Regions from separate parts of the Homo sapiens genome. Here region 2 is linked to region 1. A link means that fine-mapping ties the variant in region 1 to the expression of a gene that starts in the linked region. Tissue or cell type: whole blood. Region 1 holds a variant in brackets; the other region holds the start of a gene. All regions are shown on one strand. Distances are between the middles of the regions.

Region 1 (8,197 bases):
GGCACCAGAACACCCTCCCAGTAATAGTCACTCACAGTGTTCCATTACGGTTGAACCTATACACTCAGCATTGAGAAATGAAACCTGCTTCCTATCCAACAACACATTTATCTAGTAGAATAACATTACAGAGAATATATGGAGAATGTCTATCTTTACAAAAGATCATTTATTTTTAAAAGGGAACAGAGTTCATCAAGAGGCATGAGTTTCATTACATGGACCCATCCATTTAGTCAGTTGGCAGATAGTGCTGAGCTCCCCTGTTGGTAATGCAGCGAGGCGCACAGGGCCCAGGTCACTTGTTTAGAGCCACACACACAGCAAGATAGCAGCAGGGAGGAAACCGAGAGCAGGTCTTCTCATCCCCGGCCCTTTGCTTTTCCTCTCCAAGTTTTTCCTTATTCCAAGTTTTTCTGCTGTCTGTAAGGCCCGTTATCCAGCACTGGCTGCGTGGGGTGTGCATCCCTGTTTCTCAGCTCAGAGGGCTGACTGCACACAATAGATGTCCACAAGGGGCTTGTGGTACACCTGTGTTGCTTCTAGCAAAGATGTGAAAGAACAGAACAAACCCCAGCCCTCATTTAGCAAAATCAAGGAGGAAACTACACTCTAGGAAGATCAATTCTCTTCTCCTCCTGGGTTTCCTGCCTTTCCCACACGGGATGTTTTCCCCGTGTCCTTGTGTTCTGGCTACATCGGGGCTGGATGACAACCACGGGGCAGGCACAGCCCATCATTCCAGCTGCCAGGGAACTTCCTCATTTCTACAAAACCCACACAAGTAGCCTACTCCACCAGACAGTGGCAGAGTTTGATCTAGTGTTTGAATTAATATGTGGAATGATGGGTAGAAAAAGAAAAGAAATAAAGGGGGAGTTCTTGATTAATGGGTATAGAGTTTCAGTTTTACAAGACGAGTTATGGAGATAGATGCTGATGATGGTTATGCAACATTTTGAATGTATTTAATATCACTGAGCTGTATGCTTAGAAATGGTAAAGATGATAATTTTTTTTTTTTTTTTTGAGACAAGGTCTTGCTCCATCATCTAGGCTGGAGTGCAGTGGCGTGATCTCGGCTCACAGCAACCTCCACCTCCAGGGTTCAAGTGATTCTCCTGCCTTAGCCTCCCAAGTAGCTGGGATTACAGGAGCCTGCCACCATGCCTGGCTAATTTTTGTATTTTTAATAGAGATGGAGTTTTGCCATGTTGGTCAGGGTGGTCTCGAACTCCTCAGCTCAAGTAATTCACCTGCCTCAGCCTCCCAAAGTGCTGGGATTACAGGAGTGAGCCACTGTGTCGGGCCATGACTTTATGTGATATGTGTTTTACCACAATAAAAAAAACTTGAAGAAAAAAAAACAGAACTGGAATCCCCCCGCCCTCAAAAACAGAAAGAAAGGAAAGGAATGAAGAGAGGTGCGTTCCTGCAGATGCCTTTGCACCTGCTTGTGTCCCAGTGCAGGCCACATGACTGGAACATTGTGGAGCTGTGTTTGTCACAGCCAAGGGCCACATGGACAAATGAGCTGTCTCATTCTCAAGCTGAGCATTGGAAAGGAGGTCATTTGGAAGGAGAATAAACTATTGACAAGCTCTGGTCTTAAGAATCCTTGCAGAAGGTTTTGATGAAAAGGTTGAAAAAGAGGCTGAGCTCGGTGGCTCACGCCTGTAATCCCAGCACTTTGGGAGGCCGAGGTGGGTGGACTGCTTGAGGCCAGGAGTTTGAAACCAGCCTGGCCAACATGGTGAAACCGTGTCTCTACTAAAAATACAAAACTTAGCCAGGTGTGGTGGTGGATGCCTGTAATCACAGTTACTCGGGAGGCTGAGGGAGGAGAATTTCTTGAACCCAGGAGGTGGAGGTTGCTGTGAGCTGAGATTGTGCCACTGCATTCCAGCCTAGGTGACAGAGCATGATTCCTTCTCAAAAACCACAACAATAACAACAACAACAACAAAAAGAAACTAAAAAGTGTCCATCAGTTTTGTAGAAAATACAAAAGCCTTCATATTTTTCCTGACACTTAGGGCCATAGAGGCCAAGCTAGAACCCTTACACCATGGAATAGGGAGTGTTCTCCAGGGTAGGAGTCCTCATCCTAATTCTCCCCATGTGCCTATGTAAATTCATTTAGGAAAAGCTTTATATTTTCAGTGATATCTTTCATTAAATTATGATATCTGTACATATTTTAAAATATTGAACTAAAAGGGAAAAATGTAATCTCTTTTTTAAAGAAGGTGCCTCCAGAGAAAAGCCTGCATTTCGTAGAATTTAAAATGGATTCTCTATTATGTCCAGCAGTTGATTGGATCCCTTTGCATTGTAAGGCTCAGGTTCTCTCTCATGTCCTGTAGATACCGAGGAAGTTATTTACTCCATAACTATTAACCAATGAATGAATGTTCCAATTAAGTTGTTTTAATCGCCCAAGGTATCTTCAATATGAACTAGAGTAATATTGAGTCACGTTGACCCCTTTGATAAAATTTTGGTAGAAAGTAACTGTATTCAAACAAACAAACAAAAGAAGTGAACACTCTTCTTGTCTAAATCACAATTTATTTTGTGGATTAAAGATGCCAGCACCTGAGACTTGAGGAGTAGAATGATGCTGGTGGTAAACCCCTTGCAGGCTTTCTACTGTTTGGGGGTGTGGAGGAGATAAAAAGCCTGAAAAAAAGAGGCCAAATGGACTCCTTCTTCCTAGAAGGCTGACCCCAGGAATCCTCTGAAAGACACCCCTACCTCTACCCTATGCCCACTCCTCAAATAACAAAATCTACTGGAAATCTCCTGTGTTCCATGAGGCGAACAGTCCCTCATGTGGCGCCCCCACTCCTCGATTCTCCGTGAGCCATTAGAGCTGGCCAGATGGCCGGGGGTCTCCCAGCCTCTCTATCAAATAGTTGTGTCTGTGTCCACTGCAGAAGATGTTCTGTTTCTGATGAGCCTGTCCAAAGAGGCTCCTGCCTCTGACAGAAGAGTAGGTCCGGGAGATGGGCCAGGCATCTAAGTAGATCCAAGGGGTTGGAAACCAAGTTCTCTGATTATACCTCAGAACAGTGGAAGCACAAGGACTGGTGGAAACAAAGGGACAGGGTATGTGAGATGCAGCCATTCGAGGCCTCCAGGACCTGCACAGGTTGTATTAGAGACCCCTTCTGGTTATTCCCCTGGACCACAACCCTGAGCCCCTGTGGCGGACCCTAAGGTACTGCTATCTGCAGGCTACTCACACCATTATCTGTTGTCCATGCTTGAGAACTAGGGTTAGAATGGCAAACCATGCCAAGAGGAGCTGAAGCAGCTTAGGAAACCAGTAGGCTTCTAAGATGAACTTCATGAACTCTCTCCTAATAGTGGTGCTTTCTGTGTTTCATTCATAAGCAACAAACCCTTTGCTGAAAAAAACTACAACAAACAAACATAAACTCCCTGGCAGAGAAGTGGGCAGATACTCTGTACCAGATCTATCCTAGCTACTGCTGAGTTAATAATGACAACTTCCAATCTGGACATGCAGAATCAAGAGGAATGAAACGGCTTCCTTTCTTCTGTCCACAATAGTTATCTTTTGCTGTGTCATAAATTACCCCCAACACTTAGGGGCTTAAAATAACATTTAGGGTCTCACAGCTTCTGTGGGTCAGGGGACCAGGTGCAGCCACAGGCCTTCTGGTTCTGAATCTCTCACAAGGCTGCATCTCAAACCTCAACTAGGGCAGGACCCACTTTTCCAGCTTTTTCACATGGTTGTCAGCAGGACTGAGTTTCCAATGAGCTGTTGGTTTGTTGCCAGATGGGTCCCTTTGCAGAGCATCTCACAGCACAGCAACTTGCTCCACCAGAGTGAGCAATGCTAGGAGTGCTGTGAACCTCTCTCAAAGTCGAGATGTCCATTTAGAAAGGAAACTTACAAGGCGTCCTCTATTCCAGGAACTTCAGCATTTTCCTGATTAAGGACCACTTTTAATTTCCCCAAGGTTCTATGAAAGACCAAAAAATTGTGGGGGCTGTGGAGGAAACAGCGTGACCACAGGATGTCCCACCCACTTCGCCTCCCCCAGCTCTCGGGAATTCTCATAAGCTTGGCGTGGAGGTTTGGCAAAGCTGCGAGATCATATGGAGGGTGGTATGGAACCTGCTCTCCTCCCGAGAGCACAGAAAGGCCATTCATTATCCCAAACAGATGACTTTGGTCAAAAATGCCTTTGGTCAAAATTTCCAAAGGAGGAAATCAACCCCTAGGCTTAGAACAAAGTCTTAGGCAAACCAGAAACATCTGAGAGGATGTAAGAAGTTCAGGTGTCAGGCATTAAAATTATGGTCGGTTGCTGTGCATCTCATTAGGGGAGAAAAAATAGAAATGTACTTAAATGGACCAGAGGGGAGTCATAAGGTTGATTCTCAGGGCTGAGTGATCTGAACTGCAGAGACAACCTTAGAGAGAAAATCCATACTGGCCAGAGACCAAGTTAATGGAAAATTTAATTGAAGCAAATGAAATGCTCAGCCTCATAGGTAGTATGGCCCTGTGCCCTTTGAACCAGAAAGGCTGGGCCAGGAGGCCACAGAGGGCCCTAAGGGAAAACTCCCTTATCTGCAAGAACAAGGGGCGGGACTGAGTTTGAGAAAAGAAAATCTGCAAACCTCCACAGGAGCCTCAGTGAAAGGCTGCATGCAGG[G/A]GAGGAAACCTTCAGGTTTTGGTCACCAGGAAGTCCGTTAGAGATTCACAGCAGAAGGCCCCTCTGCATCCCACAGCACCAAGCACGTGCTGGAAACCGGCGGTCCCCCAGAGGACAGTGGGAGAGGCTGCCGGGTGGCAGAGACACAACCACCAAGGTAGGCACCGAAGCACCTGTGTCTGGGCTCTGAGTAAAAGAGGTGCAGCTGGCACGAGCACCTGCTACTGCTTCCTGCGCCTTCTCCCTCCTGCCCCTCTCCTCGCAGGTCTCCTTTTCCTGTACTATCTAGGTGATGGCACCTGGCTAAGCAAAGAGGGGTAGCTGCTCCACAGCTCTACAAATCTGCGAACTGCACTCCTGCCTTTTCTAATCTGGGTTTCAGGGCTAGGAATCTCTGATGTTGCCATCTCTGTCAGCAAGCCGAACCAAACTGTTCACACACGGAGGCCACAGGACACTGACCATTGCCTGGGCAGGGTGTGGGGGTCGGCAGGGCTGGGCAGACCGGCAAAGGGGTCAGGCAATCAATCCTGAGCAAGGCCAGGGCTCCCAGTCTGGAGGAAGGTGGTCGTGCTGATTGTGGAAAGGGCTCACTCTGCAGCTGCTCCCTCAACTGGGAAGACTGATGCGGGAAGTGGGGGGTGAGAGAGAGAGAGAAAGACAAACAGGCAGAACTGTTTAGAGATGACAAATAGTGTCTAAGACTAGATGTTGTGGTTCTTATTGCCTTAATAGGTATTATGTGAGAATAATTTTGCATAGTGGAATTGTTGTGTTTCAGGACTTCATTTGGTTAGTGAATCCAGGTAAAATGCCAGTTTAGTTTTTAAAAATAAAATCAATAGTCCGAGCCCACTGGGCTGTAAGCAGTTAAGCCTTGTGTCCTAAGTGAGGAGAGCTGACACTTGGTCAGGAGCATCTATAGTTTTATACATAAGGTCCGTTTTCCCCTCCCTGCCGCTCTGTTTTGGGACTTTCTCTTTCTCTCTCTGGCTCGTGGCTTTCTCCTGCACCTCTTCCTCTTTCTGCTTCTCTCTTTGGAGGTTCTCTACATTTCAGGGGCTCACACCTGACCCTCCAGGACTGTAGCAGAAATGGGCTGCACCTGGGTGTCCTGGAAGCCATGGATGCAGGGGCATTACCTAACCCTATCTCCACCCCAGGCTTCAGCAAGGATCAGGGAGCAAGGGAGGAATCCACACACTCTGGACTCAGAACCCTGAAGCTTTGATCCCTAAACCGGAAGGCTTAGGCACAGTTCAGGTTCATATGCAAACAGGTATGCCTTGAGGCTTGAGTGGGTTTACATGCTTCTAGAGTGTTCTTTGGCCTCACTAATAGGCAGGCTTTATACACAGTGGCTGGAGGGAACCATAGTCCACAAGCAGGTTTAGCGATGGTGAAAAAGGACCATCAGTCTGTCCTGAAAGCTCCCAGGACGCCAAACCTTGAAAATGTGGCAGATTTCTTTGATGGGGCCACGTGTGTGTTTTCCTTTCTATTTAAGCATGCTCTCGTGACTGTGCAAAAGGCAGATCATTCTTTTTTTCTGGAGGAAAAGATTTAATGATTCTTAAATGGCAACATTAGTCTCTTGGCTGGATGCAGAGGGTTACAGAAGTGAGTAAAAAGCCACTCATTTACCTTGCTTTGTTAAGCTGGCATTCTCCACTGCAATTAAATGGCCTCACACAGGCTGGGTTGGAGCCTCTTGTTGATGAGCAGTGCCAGGGTGACAAGACAGCTTCTTTCAGATGGAAAACGATTTTGTATGGACACAGGAGGAAATTTCGACCATGAGTGCCTTCGCCTGTGAGCCCTACGGTCTGCCGGGACTCTGTGTGCAGGAGTTAGATCCTCCAACAGGTCGGCTGGCCCCATCTGGTGTTTGCTCACCAGTCAGCCACAAAAGCGCTTGAAAAGTGGGGGTTCCCTCTCCAGATACAGACTTGGTCCTTTCTTTTTACTGACTTTAAATATTGGATTTAGGTAAGAAACATATGTCACAGTTCAATTAAATTCTTAAGCTCCTAGTAGTTCTGCATACCTAGAATTCATCTGCCTCATGTTGGATGTTGAGGTGACCTAACATGTTGGATAGTGTAAAGGGTACATGTCCAGCAGTCATGTGTTTTAACTGAAGCAAGAAGAATTGAGGCTAGATGTAAGGAGGAACTTTTAGGCAATGAGATTCATAGCACAATGGCCTCACTCTAAAGGAGATTGTAAAATCTCTTTGGGGAAGCTTTCAAATAAAAGACTCAGTTATCTACCATAGTTTCTTTTCTAGACAACACCCTGCCTGAAGAGATAGGTTGGGGCTAGCTCAATGCATTCCAAATATTAATTTACCACCTTCACAATTTCTACTGTGTCTGAGTAACACTTATAGAACTGTCTACTCAAGATATTCCTTTACATTAACTCATGTCTTTTAATCTTAGCCATTAGTCAGCTTAAGCAATCATACTGTATCAGTGAAATCATTTTGTTTGATGTGCTAATTATATGTCGTGGATGTACATTGAAATACATGACAATAAAAAAACATTTACTGGTTGTCGTAGGCTGAATCGTGTATGTTCAAATTCTCGGGTATCTGGAACCCTTTTTGGAAATGGGATCTTATTTGGAAATAGGATCTTTGCAGATGTAATCAAGTGAAAGGGAAGTCATACTGAATTAGGGCTCTAATCCCATGACTGGTGTCCTTAGAAGAAGAAGGAAATTTGGACACAGATCGTGACACACAGAGAAAACACCACAGTGGAGGCAGAGATTGGAGCGCTGTCTCCAGCCAAGGAACTCCAAAGATTGTTGGCCACCAGGGGATGCTAGAAAGAGGCCAGGAGGGATTCTCCCCTAGAGTCCTGAGAGGGAGCCTGGCCCTGTGGACACCTTGATTTCAGACTGGTAGGCTCCAGAACTATGGCAGAATAAATTTCTGTCGTTTTAAACCACCCGGTTTGTTAGTTTCTGCAATCCTAGGAAATGAATATACCCATGTGGTTCCCTGTCCCGCCAGTGGAAAGCATTTAACATTTGGGGAAATGCTGGGCTGGGTGCTTGTGAAGGTCCTTTTCCTTCCTGCCACCGAATGATGAGGGCCATCCATGCATCTGTCACTTTTACGCTTAGCTATGATGTATCAGAACCCCTCTATAGAAAAGTGCGGAAAATGCAGTTTCAATCGGGTTTGAACAGATCCATTTCATCAATTCTGGAAGCCACCACAGTGTGTGCATCTGAACGTGCTGTTCACTCGCGGCCACCCAGGAGCCACTTTACAGAGCCACATCTGGGGCTTGGTTGATTTGTCTTGACAGTTGTCCACCTGGGCAGACTTTGGAACCACCAGCACATCCTTTGCCTGGGTAGAAGGTATTGCTTGATGCCCTCCGAAGCCTATTTTCCCTTCTGATAATTCATTTGGATCACAGCCCAGAGGTTAGCTTTTATTACCTTTGATCTCACCCACGGGCATCAGTAGTTTCTTTCTT
Region 2 (8,197 bases), 92 kb before region 1:
GGGGAGTCAAGAGATCTGGCACCCACTCTTGTGTAGTCTGACTAATTAGGTTAACTATTTGCTGCAAAATGGTAATCATAAGCCTTATGCTTTCCATAGCCCCTAAGGTTCTCAAACTTGTGTTGAATGATGTGGAAGGGAAGCTGTGGGGCCTCTGGAGTGTGGGAGGCTGTTCTCCCTTCCTTACTACAGAAATGGAATCTTAGCTTTTCTTCGTGTTCTTTCTCCATGCTCTCTCCTCCCTACCTTTGCTCCAAATTGATATCCAAAGCTCTAGTTTACTAGGTCTTATCCTAATGAGAGAAAGGACACTTTTTGCCCCTTTGTAATTATGGCCATATCCATAATCACAACTAAGCACTCCTCCAACCCAAAGCGTCATCCTGTTTCAGCAGACCGATGTTTTGAGTTAGAGATAAAGCAGTTCTTAGGCTTGTGAAATGTCAGAGCCATAAGTGACCACAAAGATGATCTAGTCCCTTATTTCCTTGTCCCGTGTTATAGAAAGTCAATGATTTCACCCATGTCATTGGGTTAGTGGTAGGGCTGGAACAAGTGGCAGTGCCAGGATCCATGAGGTGGAATGATTAATTAGAGTATCTTTGGGCACAGACTGCCTGGGTCAGACCTGTGTCTACCACTTCTAAGCTGTGTGTCCTTGGGCAAGTTATTTAACATCCCTAAGTCTCAGTTTCCTTATCTGTAAGATGGGAATGGTATCATAATACCTACTTCATAGGATTGTCATAAATGGGATACAAAATGGGAAGGGCTTCACACATAATTCTTCAGTAAATGTTAGCTATCACTGTTATAACAAAGGTTGTTTCGGCGGTAGCACTGACTGCCAGTCCAAGACAGAATCCTCTCGATCGGATGCTTGTGTTGGAAAACACAACTCTTTAGGACAAAGGCCATTTTCAATGTGAACGGTGTCTTTACCAGCAGCTGACAGAAGGATTACTCTTCAAATGGAGGCTACTCTAAGTAGATTTGCATTTGGGACGCCCCCAAATTAACTTGCTCCCTCTGGTTGCCTCCTGCTAACCACCAGCCCAGTAGCACTCGTGTGGAGAGAGTGGAACATGCTGCTTGTGGTCTGAGACAGAAATGTAACCACAGTGCAAAGAAAATTAACAACGTGGCACAACCTAAGCACCCTTTTCATGGGACAGGGATGTACAAGACTTAGAGAGATGCTAGCTCAGAGCGGTCACTTTTCTTCTTAGCAGGTCCCTCAGCTAATACCAGTCATCCCATCAAATTTCTTTTTTCTTACATGTTTAACTTAAATTTTTCTTGGAATTAAAAACATTTAGGATTTTTTAAAATATTGATTTAAGTTATTAAAAGCTATGTTCCTGGTTGCATGAAGAAAGAAATCCCAGTAAGTTTAAATATATATATTTTAATAAATGTGTGTATATACAGATATATTTAAATAAAAAAATTTAAGTAAAAAATATAAAGATATATTTAAATAAAAATATACATTTAAGTAAAAAACAAATATATATTTAAATAAAAATGTAAATATATATTTAAATAAAAATGTAAATATATTTAAATAAAAATATAAAGATATATTTAAATAAATATATTTACATATTTATTAAATTTATTAAATTACATAATTTAATGAATAATTTATTAAATATCAAATATTTTGAATAACATATTTAAGTAAATAAATATTGTTTACTTAAATATATACATATATATAAAAAATATATATATTTTTTGAGACGGAGTCTCGCTCTGTCGCCCAGGCTGTAGTGCAGTGGCGTGATCTCGGCTCACTGCAAGCTCCGCCTCCCGGGTTCACACCATTCTCCTGCCTCAGCCTCCCAAGTAGCTGGGACTACAGGCGCCTGCCACCACTCCCAGCTAATTTTTTGTATTTTTAGTAGAGACGGGGTTTCACCGTGTTAGCCAGGATGGTCTCGATCTCCTGACCTTGTGATCTGCCCACCTCAGCCTCCCAAAGTGCTGGGATTACAGGCGTGAGCCACCGCGCCCAAGCAATCCAGCTTTTGTTGATTTCAATTTTAGGCTTTATTACCAAGTTGACCTGTTAGATGACAATGGGTGCTTCCCACATGCACCCACCTTGAGGACAAGGACAACAGTAGCCCATCTGGGAGGAGGCAAGGAGGTTGGGCCTGAGGATCAGAGTGAGAAACCCTCACAGAGCTGGGTAGGAAAACCAGCAACTCCTTTCTTATGGGTAGATTCTGCCAACCCTTTTACTTCTTTTACAGGACTTGGAGATTATTTCTGATTACTTAAGAAATGTTATTTTTTTTAATCCTAAGAAACATTTTAGAGTGAAAATTGGTCTAATGTCTCAGCCCATTCCAGGTGCTTTAAGCTCAGTGTAGTGTGGCATGTGTGAGGCCACGGGTGTGAGTATAATAACCGCTGTCGCTGGGACAGAGATGCTGTCCAAACTTAAATCATCCATCTTCTTTCCTTTTCTTTCCTTTTCTTTTCTTCTTTTTCTTTTCTTTCTTTTCTTTTCTTTTCTTCTTTTCTTTTTCTTTCTTTTTTCTTTTTTTTTGAGATGGAATTTCACTCTTGTCACCCAAGCTGGAGTGCAATGGCGTGATCTCAGCTCACTGCAACCTCTCCCTCCCAGGTTCAAGCGATTCTCCTGCCTCAGCCTCCCGAGTAGCTGGGATTACAGGCAAGCGCCACCAAGCCTGGCTAATTTTTGTATTTTTAGTAGAGATGGGGTTTCACCATGTTGGCCAGTCTGGTCTCGAACTCCTAACCTCAAGTCCAGGAGTCCCAAAATGCTGGGATTACAGGCATGAGCCACCACACCTAGCCCATCCATCTTATTTTCTTTTTTTTTTTTTTTTTTTTGAGATGGAGTCTCGCTCTGTCACCCAGGCTGGAGTGCAGTGGCACGGTATCGGCTCACTGTGAGCTCCGCCTCCCGGGTTCACGCCATTCTCCCTCCTCAGCCTCCCAAGTAGCTGGGACTACAGGCGCCCGCCACCACGCCCAGCTAATTTTTTGTATTTTTAGTAGAGACGGGGTTTCACCATTCACAGGATGGTCTCGATCTCCTGACCTCGTGATCCACCCGCCTTGGCCTCCCAAAGTGCTGGGATTACAGGCATGAGCCACTGCACCTGGCCCATCCATCTTATTTTCTTTTCTTCTCCTCTTCCTCCTTCTTTAGTGAAATCAACTTATATGAAATGAAAATGCAAACTACCAAACCTGCCTTTTCCCATACAAAACAACAAAATTTGATGATTAAATGAACTAAAGTAGTGAATTTCTTCTTGCTCAATTAATTACAAGGCTTTGACTTAAAACAATTTTTTATATTTTCATAATAAATTTCAGAGGAGAGATTTCTTATGTACTTCTAATGTGACTCTACACATATATTTAGAGAAACCTCAAGTTGTCCATTGCAGTTTTTTTCACTCTCAGTAACTGGCCAGGTTGTGGCCTAAGCCTTCGTTAGCCCTGGTTGATATTTAGTCCCGGCTAAATTTGTTTGCTGCTCATCCCTAGGAGTAAGCCACATGTTTGTAGAATGGATGTTTCATCTTGTAGGAAATACCTGTGAATATGCCAATATCCCAGAGTGGATGAAATGGGCAATGGGGAGCCCTGCTCCACTTTACAAAAAGAAAGGAAAAGAAAAGATCCCTTCGCCGATATATATTGATTTGCTGCAGAAAATGCAATGGGGCATGGGAATGAATAGTCACTCTTGCCCTGTTTCTATCCTGTGCAGGTCCCACCACGTTGAGGTGGGTAGAGATGCTTACACACACACACATACAGGCCTGGAGCCAAAGTCAGGGCCGGCTTTAATGAACTGTACACATATGTTGTGGGCAGCCGCTGATTTAATATGTACAACCATGGTGTGTGCACACACCTGGATAGGCACACTGCTCTGGGAATCACACAGGGTCTCCTGAACAATGATGCTATTGTAATATTTCTTTTTGTTTTATTTGTCCAAAGTCAAACATTCACTCTGTCAGATCACCAGTGTCTTATAAGCCTGGTGTTGGCCCACACTGCTGCAGGATTGGGACAAAGAGACGATGTTACAGTCTGGTTTCTATGGCAACAGAGGAGGGGTAATGAAAACTGAAATGTTGGAAACACCCATTCTAACCATTGTGACATAATTCAGGTTATTACAAGGATGTAACTACCAAAGAAGCAGAAGTGTCATTACCTTGCAGCTCATGTCGACAAAAAGCTACACTGCACATTTCTCTTAGGCTGCTAAGAGGAAGGAAACACAAAACACACACACACACACACACACACACACACACACACACACACACACACACACACAGAGGCCTCGTTTTCTGCATGTAAAATGTGTGTGTTCTTTAAAAGCCAGTGGTTGGCTGGTTTTCCGGACATGATGTGGTTGAAGCTGTCATCGTAATGGAAATTCATTGCTGTAGCTATGGTAAATCGAGTTTTCTGCCTGTGCTGAATGCATTAGTCTAATGAGATGTTTGCAGCTGGAGCGCAGGGCTGCTGGAGACTAACTGTGAGCTACTAACACGGGTGGAAGATAGCTTTTGCAATACTCGGTTTGCATGTGCTGAAAGTCATCTGTCTTCTGAGTCAACACTCCCGACCTGGTAAACAACCTGCTCAGGGCTCTGGTGAACAAGCTGTAGGTAAGGGAGATGCACAATTGGAGGCGTGCCGTTGACACGGGATCTTTCTCTTGTAACTGTCAGCATGACAGGTTACCTGTTTCAGTTTTTTCTGGGTTGCATGCCTACCTCTATGGCAACGCACAAGAGTGTCCTGCACTAAAACCACTGAGTCCAGTAGGTAAACTTTAGTTCCTCATATGCAAAGTACAGCATTTAATTTATTAACCAGATCTCAGAGGGGAAAATGTAACATTGAATTATATAGTTTATAAATTTGGGCTATATACATGTTCATTACTCTTTAACTCTGCATTTAAATACCTAGAAAGTTATTTTTTTCCAAATGTGAACTCAAGTAACCGGTTAGTTATTTTTTCCCTTCACGATAATTTTGCTTTGTTTTGCTTTTTAATTTTAAAAAAATTGTACTATGTCTTGGGATAAAAATATTTACCTAAAATTTGGTTATTAAAATTGGTATGTTATGAACATGTAAAAGTGTTTTTTTTCCCATTTAATTTTATTTCAAATATCCCAGGTAGAATATTTCACATGTCTTTGTGCTGGTTTTTCCTAATTTATGAGGCATAAATAAGAATAATATTTACTGCTAGTTTCTGGTTTTAATTCGTTTTTTGGGAAAAAAACTGGTGACTATGGAGTATTAGCGGCAGTTTTCCCAAGCTCAAAATCACCTCCTTCCCAGGTGGAGCACTGTGACTTGAACCAGCTTCCACGTGCTCCTCCCAAAGCATGAGGGGTCCTCTCCAGGTTGATTGCTGGCTGGACAGGAGCGGTGGATGAGGCCAGGGTGCAGGCTGCTGAGCTGTTTTGCTGAGTTGAGGTGCTTGAGTCAAAGTTCTTTCCACTATCTGTGATCGTGAACGAGAGGTGTCTCCTCGTGTTGTCTCTAGATTCCATGACGGTACTCATGAGGGTTAGACAATCAGTGGCTTTCTGAGAAAGTGGTTTTTTACTGATCTCAGACACTACAGTACTTGAGAAAGTAATCCAGGCACTTCAGAATCAGGGTATTTGTTATATGCTGTTTTTCTTTCTTTTCAACCAGAGGAACCATTTTTGAAGAATGAGGGATATAGCTGCTTTTTTTCTCCACTTTTTTTTTTTTAAAGCAAAATAGAATATCTGGAGTGAAAGCATAAAAATAACTACAAAGGAATTCTTAGTGTGTTAAACTATCTGGGGGGTATAATATTTGTGTGGAGCATTTTTTGTGTTGCTTGGTAGAACTAGTCTGATAAAATGAGGGGCTGTTTGAGCAACAGCAGCTGGGTGAAGATTACCTAGAAAATCGGTACTGCGTGATCGTCTAAACTCAAAAGGTTAATGTAGAATCTTCAGTTTTAGGGAAATTGGTGGCTTCACAAACTATAACTTTTAAACAGGCTTTTTGACAGAATTTTTAAAAAATATGAATGTGTTTTCTTTAGCTCTTTAAATTGTGTACGTAGATGAGCTCTGAAATATTTTGGTAAATTCATCAGTTTGCTTCATTTGTGGAATTATAACAAAAGTGCAAAGCCCACAAAAATCCAGTTCTTTCATGTATAACATGTTTACATTTCTTCCCTGTGTCCCCAAAATTACTTTTATTTTGCTGCAAAAAAAAAAAAAGAAAAGAAAAAAAGAAAAGAGTAAATGAACGGTAATAGAAAGACAAGAAAACAATAAGCGAAACGAGTAAGTTGCTTTTCATCATTTCTTTGCTTTTGGTGGTGTGTTTTCGAGGCGAGGGAAATCAGCAGAAGCAGTTTCACTTTCTGGTTCTTGACTCCTGGGGGTGAGGGTGAAAGGCTGTCTCCTCTAGCAAGCAGCAGGTAAGCTAAGCAGCTCAGCCCACAGAAAACAAGCCAGACCCAAATACTGTCACTTGCTGCAAGAACTTTTATAATGAGAGTTCAAAACAATATTGACTTTAAAAAAATACTCAGTAACACTTTCCTATTAAAAAATTCAAGCACTACCCCAAAGTACAAAGATAGACTTTTTTAATTTTTAAAATTTGAAATGATGAGAAAATCATCTCTGCTGTTTATGTATTTTTAATCTCAATTTTGGATCTCAAATACTTCAATACTTTTAAGGAAACATAACTGAAGTTCCCTGAAATCATAACAAGGAATGCTCGGAGAGGAATAACCTTTCTGGGAGTCTGGGGGCTTAAATGTTAGAGTGCTTCGTAGGTCTGTTTACAATTTTGTGTGGCCTGAGGACACATCACACATGTGTCCACACATCCTTTATGACACGCACCTTAAAGAACTTTTGGTCCAGGCAGAGGTGGTGGCTGGAGCTTGAAAGCCCTCACAGGGGCCCTGTTAGGGATCTGCAGGACAATTTTCCTCCCCAAGTCCCTGCCCTCGGAAACCTCAATATCACATGGGTAGATGCCAGGGAGCCGGGATGTGCCCATCCCACTCCACAAGTCCTGAAGAGCGTGGCAGGTGACACTACCCCTCATTGGGCTGGGAGCCTTAGGATACCAAGCATCTCCAGTGTCATTCTTCCCCTGAGCCCTCAGATTTTATGTGGGGATGGAATGGGAAAGAAGGGAAAGGAGATGAGAAAAGACCCTCTTTTAATCTGATTATCATGGAGCGTAAAATCTTGTCTAACATTTTGTGGATGAAGTTTGTGAAAGCAGTTGCCTTTGGTGTGATCACACAAGCTTCTTTCTTTTGGTGGGCACATCTGATGTTTCTAAGAAGGAACTTTTAAACAATGCCTCCCTAGACATCTTATTTCTTAATTCTGCCATCTCTCAAAAGGCTAGTTTTAGATTTACACATTTTTTAATGTTTTCATTGCCTTCAAAAGCAGACAGGTGAGGAGAGAAGAGGGGGATTAAATCAGCCCCTGGGAGAGACATTAAACGGCTTGGTACAGATATCATATAACAGAAGCCACCAGGGTATCTAGTAAATTACTCTAAATTTTAATTAATGAGTCACAAAAGCCACACCACAAGCTTTAAAAATTACCCTTTTATCAATAAGGTGATAATTAACTTTCTCTGGAATTAGCAGTTCTCTCAGCCCCGGGGCAGTACACAGCCTAGTAAGTTCTCTGGAATGCTGCCAATTTTTAACAATTGGTCTTTTGGCAAACCTACTGGATTTTAATTCAAACATCTATTGTGACATTTTCCAACGTGGTCCACAGACCATTAGGATCACCCAAATCGTGGTAAAATTTCTGAGGTCAAAAGAGCAGCTTGGAATGTTTGAATCGCATTTGAATATGTCACTTTCTCCTTCTTCTTCTTTTTTTTCTTTTCTACCTTTCCCCACCCCAAACTTCTGCATTTGCAAGAGCGCAGTGCTCCAGTCTGCTGTAAATCTCTACTAGAGTCTCTGCTGTAAATCGCTGTGGGGAACCCTGCATTTGTTGATACGCCCATACCAAGTCCGAACGCCCTGGCTGCCAGCCCGTGGGTTCTAAGCGTTTTTCATTGTTGCACTCGTCTTGGTTTCAATTCTGGCAAGGGCTCACTCCTTCATGTTTTTGCAAACTCT

Evidence for each region. PIP is the estimated chance that this variant, and not a neighbour inherited with it, causes the effect.
Region 2: SCML4 starts here. The variant in region 1 is fine-mapped to the expression of SCML4 in whole blood (TOPMed, PIP above 0.99).

Annotation. Positions count from the first base shown.
Region 1 is chr6:107,728,631-107,736,827 of GRCh38, reverse strand. The region is part of intron 5 of SCML4 (Scm polycomb group protein like 4); the gene reads left to right. Among named protein-coding and RNA genes, the nearest start is that of SCML4, 92 kb to the left of the region's middle. The variant G/A (reference allele first, on the strand shown) is at 4,698.
Region 2 is chr6:107,820,608-107,828,804 of GRCh38, reverse strand. It overlaps SCML4 (Scm polycomb group protein like 4), which reads left to right and starts at 4,492. Exons shown (of 8, transcript NM_198081.5): 1 at 4,492-4,679. RefSeq lists an enhancer at 6,340-6,409.